Linked DNA regions of Homo sapiens: region 2 is linked to region 1. Evidence: fine-mapped expression QTL. A gene starts in region 1. The other region holds a variant in brackets. All regions are shown on one strand. Distances are between the middles of the regions.

Region 1 (2,806 bases):
ATGATGCCCTTAGAAGCAGGGGCAGCGGCAAGCGGCGGAGATAGGGATTAAGTTCCTAACAGTCTTCTTCCCCTGACCTGGCAGATGGGGACGCTGCCCCTTAGAAGCCTTTTTCCCCGCAATACGGGACGCCGCAGAGGTGAAAGACCAAGAAGGTGGAGCAAACTTTTAGGGAGCGCCTCTTGGGCCCGCGTACCCTTCCGCCTGTTCCTCTCTGATTGGCCAGCGTGAGTCACGGACGCCCAATCGCGCGGTAGCGTCCGCCGTGCCGCTGGGCGACGGCGGCGCGCATGCCCACTCAGGGACCCACCCTGCGCCCCAGCCCTCTACAGCGCGGGCGAAGGGCATCGGCGGGGAAGCGGCTGTGGTTGCCAGATCTGGCAGTACAGAGCCAAGGTGGCAGGGCCGCGCTAGGACACGGATGGTCCCAGGGGGAGGGCAACAGGAAAAACAAGCACTGACACAACTGCCCCATTTCCCCATGTCCCCTAAAAGCAGGTTTTCTTGGGCTGACCAGGGCATTTTCACTGTGGTGTCCGACTGGGGCAACTCGATCTGCCCGCGGGGACTCAAAAAAGCTTGAGCTGCATTTTTTCTTTGCGTCCGGGCGGACCAAAAGGCGAGGTGAAGGGAACGAGTGTTTATAAGAAAGTAAACTTTTGTGCAGAATGGGCTGGGGACACCTCTGAGTTTTGCTGCCCGCAACGTGACCTTTTTAGCGCGGTCCTGGACGCGTTCCCTCGCAGCCAACCCGTCAGTCTCCTCAGGCCTTATCCTGCCCTCTCTGAGGTGGCCGCCTGTGGGCGCTGCAAACGCCACACTTTTGCTCTACGAAGAACCTCCTCGCGACTTTCCAAGGTGTGCAACTCAGAAAAGCGCCCCCCAAAACAAGTAAAAGCCTTCGGGGAAGAGGCAAAGTCCCTGAACCGTCCTGACTCCAGCCACCAGCCGGTGTTTGGTGGATCAGGTCCCGGAGCTCCGCAGCCTGGGAGCCCCACACCAGGCCGGCCCCTACGGCCGCTCAGAAAACGCGGCGAGCGGAACCCGCACGCGGAAGCGCCGGCCGCACTGAGCATGCCCAGTTGCAGAGCCGACCAGAGGAGTTTTTTCTTTTCTTTTCTTTTTTTTTTTTTAAGGGGGGGGGTCTCAAGTAGGAGGCCTCCCCATCACCCCCACCCCAGCCCCCCACCACCCCCGGCCTAAGCAGCTACCATGGCCCAGGTGGCCGGCGCGGCGTTGTCCCAGGCGGGTTGGTAAGTGGCGAGTCCCGCCGGCTGCCGGGCCGCGGGTGCGGGCCGGGGCCCCAGGGAGGTTGGGTTGGGGGCGGCGGGGTGCGTGTCGGGGTAGGCGGAGGCTGTCGTCCGCCCCCGGCCTCTCCCCGGGCCCTTCGGGCCGGCTCCGCCCCCGGCGCCACGCGGAGCCCTGCGAGTTCCCCTAGGTCCCCTGGAGGCGGCGGCGGCGGCGGCCTGGGCCCCGGGCGGCGGGCCTGGGCCCCGGGCGGCGGGCGGCGGGCCTGGGGAGAGGCCGGGGGCCGCGAGCCGGGCGGGTGGCGGCCCAGACCCCGGCCGACCGGAGCGCCGGGGAGGACCTGCAGCGCCGTCCGCGCGGCTTCTCCGGGGAGGGGGTGTTTCTGCAGCGGGATCGGGAGGCGAGGGCTGGGAACGAAGTGCGGCGGAGAGGGACGAACGCGGCCGGAGCCCGCGGGCCCATAGGAAGTTGAGGGCAGAGCAGAGCACAGCCCGCGCTGCGGCCGGAGCCGCCTCTTCTTACCCCTTATTTCAAAGTACAGTGTGGACCAGTGTGAATCTGCCTTCCGCGGCACACACACAACTTCTGGAGCTAAGAATGACCGCAATGTCAACTCGTGGGGGTGCTCGGTAGAACTTTTCTTGAAAGGATGGTGTTCTGATTTTAAGAGGCCTTTCGTGTCAAGATTTTCAGGATTTGAAAACAATACAAAATTATGCGAAATTAGGCAGTTTCTGGAATTGCGGCCATTACGGTTGTAATCATCCCGTTTAATTCAGTAACGCTTTTCCCAGGCTTGCACAGGCACATTCTGGGATGAAGGGTAGGAACGGGGATGAAAAAGATTTGCAACGGCTCTCTGCAATTACTGCTTTAGGAGAAAGAGTGAGGCATTAAAAGACCAAACAAAACCAGGGGGAATAGTGATAAACCGTACGTACAGAGGAACAGATGAGTGCACTGTGGAATGGGAGGGAGAGTTACTTTCCTAAAGTGGACTTGGAAAGATGGTAAGGAAAAGGCTTTCTAGCACAGAGCTGCTGGAGATGACACAGGGAAGCGCTTATTGTTTTGCAGAACCTACACAAGATCTATATGGTTCGTGAAAGATGTGGATTTGATTTTGTGAATAAAGTTTTTGATCAGTAGAGGGATATAATCACAACTGTGCTTTGAAGAAGCCCCTCCTGATTTTAAAGGCACTTGTGTTATTATACACCCCATTTTACAGGTGAGGAGACTGAGGCAAAGAGCTGTTAAGTAACTTTCCCAAAATGACATAGCTAGAAAGTGGTGGAGTTGAATGTTGAGCACAGAGGGCCTGGCTCTGGGCCTGGTTCCTTTAACGCTTATGCGTTATTGTTGTTACAGTTTTTTCGCAGAACAGCATGGGCGTAAAAGATTGTAGAGTTAAAAACACTGTCTTCAGTTTTGTTTCTGTTCAATAGGAATCTCTTCTTTCAGTTTTTTTACCCACAAGGGTGTCCTGAATAATCTTGGATCCCTCTTTCATTTGCCTTTCTCCCCATTTCTCATTAGGTTGAGCGTTGATCCTTCA
Region 2 (2,806 bases), 58 kb after region 1:
AATTCTCAAGTCCTTAGGGGCTTAAAATTTTTTTTAATAATTTTTTTTAATATTTCTCAATCTTCGTAGCTTGTTTCCTTGTAAGTCTCATGATAGTTTGTTATGATTTCATTTTTCTTGATCTTTCTCTGTGAGAATCCTGGCCACTTGAATCAGAAATGCTTTTTTGTTTTGTTTTGTTTTTAGAAGGGATATGTGCTTCTTTCTGCCTTGAGCTAGTGGGGGTGCTACTTGACTTACAGTGAGTTAAAGTGCTGGCTAAGGTTAACTTTGCCCCTTGGCCACCAGCCCAAAGCTGAAACTCTTAGTTGCAGTGTTGTTACTGCCAGAAGCAAACATCTTCTTTGGAGGGAAATGTAGCCCAAATTGGGGTTCACCCTAGATGCGTACATGGATGACATTGGGAATGTTTCTGAAATTTCTAACAATGTATATTTCTTTTTTTTTTTTATTTTTGTTTTCTTGGGTCTGATACCATACGTAGAATGGTACAGGGTGTATGTGACAAATCAGACTTTATTTTTTTCTCTCTTCCTATCCCACCTCTATTGATTGATTGGTTGATTGATTGATTGAGACAGAGTCTTGCTCTTGTTGCCCAGGCTGGAGTGCAGTGGCGCGATCTCGGCTCACTGCAACCTCTCCTTCCCGGATTTAAGCGATTCTCCTGCCTCAGCCTCCCAAGTAGCTGGGATTACAGGCGCCTGCCACCACGCCCGGCTAATTTTGTATTTTTAGTAGAGACGGGGTTTCACCATGTTGGTCAGGCTAGTCTGGAACTCCTGACCTCAGGTGATCCGCCCACCTCAGCCTCCCAAAGTGCTGGGATTACAGGTGTGTGCCACCACACCTGGCTTATATTTATTTATTAAAGTCAAATTGTGTTGAAATGATACTAAGAGATGTTTTGACAGAGAAAGTAGGTAAAAAAGAGGTCGTCATAAGTGCTATTTAAAGCTTATCTTTCAGGCTTTTAAAGCAGCTATAGGCAGAATTAGTATTTCTTCTTCCAAGGCAGCTTTCTTGAAACATTGCCCTGTTAAGGGCAATGGGCCTTAAGGTAAAGATGTGAATAATTTAGTCAAAAACCTCCCTTGAAATAAAAGAATGGATGAAAAAATGATCCCTAGGAAATCTCCCCTGAAGCCACTGGAAATGCTTTTGGAAGTAGTGATGGGGTAGAGAAGGAAATGAATTAAGACTTTAAGTAGATAAAAGAACTATGGAAGATTAAACTATTTCATTTTCTCTTAATTTTAATCTACTTTGCAATAATGGTGGAACATTGATTGGAACTGAATCACACTCATATATTCCTTTTGGGTGTATG[G/A]TTTGTTTCTAGGGTTGATGGAGAGTGTGATGCTTATGTTGTTAGGTATACAGATTGAGAAATTTCTTTCTCAAGAGAATTAATAAGATTACAAAAACAGGCCAGGTATGGTTGCCCACGCCTGTAATCCCAGCACTTTAGAAGGCCAAGGTGGGTGGATCACCTGAGGTCCAGAGTTCGAGACCAGCCTGGCCAACATGGTGAAACCCATCTCTACTAAAAAAGATAGAAAAATTAGCTGGGTGTGGTTGCTCACACCTGTAATCCCAGCTACTAGGGAGGCTGAGGAAGGAGAATCACTTGAACCTGGGAGGCGGAGGTTGCAGTGAGCCGAGATCAAGCCATTGCACTCCAGCCTGGGTGACAGAGTGAGACTATGTCTCAAAAAAAAAAAAAAAAAAAGATTAATGGCTGGCATGTATTTTCAGGTTAAGTGTCTTAAATGGTTTCTAGAGTTAAGAAAAAAAAATTGTTTTAAGTGTTTATCCAGATGTGATTATACTGTAGAGAATTAGTCCCCTGTCATCCAAACTTTGGAGTCTGATTGATAGACAAGAATGTTATTTAGTATGATCAATAAATTAATAAATTAACACAACCATTTAAATCTGATATTTCATATCCGTTGGTATGACTAGTTAGGAGTTTAGATGACAGAGGTATTCGTCTACCTCAGGAGAAGAAGGAATGATGCCTGGATTAATGGCCTGAGAGAATATTTCTAGCAGATACTTAATATTGTTTGTTAGAGTTAGACATGCTTACCTGGAGGTGCAATGATACATCTTTCTAAGCCACTAAAATTTTTTAGAGTAATTTCTTTTGATTTTTTCTTATTACTAATACAAAAGAGAAAATCAGACATTAAAGAAGACTTGGGTGATCAAGATTAATCCTTTTTATTATTTTCATTTGAAATTGGTATTTTTTTTACTTTGGAGTTGCTCTTAACAGTAGTTGAAGAAAGATTTAGAAATTAATTCTTGTCTATTTTTGTGGATGTTTTAGATGACTTTTTTTGAGACACCTTTTTGTGTGTATGTGTGTCACCTGGGCCAGAGTGTAGTGGCGCAATCGTGGTTCACTGTAGCCTCCACCTCCCAGGCTCAAGAGATCCTGCCATCTCAGCCTCCCAAGTAGCTGCGGCTACAAGCACACACCACCACGCTTGGCTAATTTTTGTATTTTTTGTAGAGATGGGGTCTCCCTATGTTGCCCAGGCTGGTCTCAAACTCCTGGGTTCAAGCGAGCCACCCACCTCCATCCTCCAAAGTGCTGAGATTACAGGTGTGAGTCACCGCACCCAGCCTTAAGATGATTTTAGATTCAGGATTTAGGATCTTAGAACCATAACATTTAAAAAATTTTATTATGTATATTTTATCTAGGTCCATTACTTCCCTATGTTTTAACTACAGAGTATAAGAAACTGAATATTGTAAGCAGAATAATGAAAAAAATCGTTATATTTACTGG

Evidence for each region. PIP is the estimated chance that this variant, and not a neighbour inherited with it, causes the effect.
Region 2: its variant is the best candidate, but not a certain one, in a credible set for the expression of TDRD3 in whole blood (TOPMed, PIP 0.76).

What each region holds. Positions count from the first base shown.
Region 1 is chr13:60,396,153-60,398,958 of GRCh38, forward strand. TDRD3 (tudor domain containing 3) reads left to right here and starts at 1,068. Exons shown (of 14, transcript NM_001146070.2): 1 at 1,068-1,253. The coding sequence starts at 1,213. RefSeq lists enhancers at 1-59, 390-719, 428-940, 790-989, 1,870-1,919 and a silencer at 1,130-1,699.
Region 2 is chr13:60,454,357-60,457,162 of GRCh38, forward strand. All of the region lies in intron 3 of TDRD3 (tudor domain containing 3), which reads left to right. Among named protein-coding and RNA genes, the nearest start is that of TDRD3, 59 kb to the left of the region's middle. The variant G/A (reference allele first, on the strand shown) is at 1,331.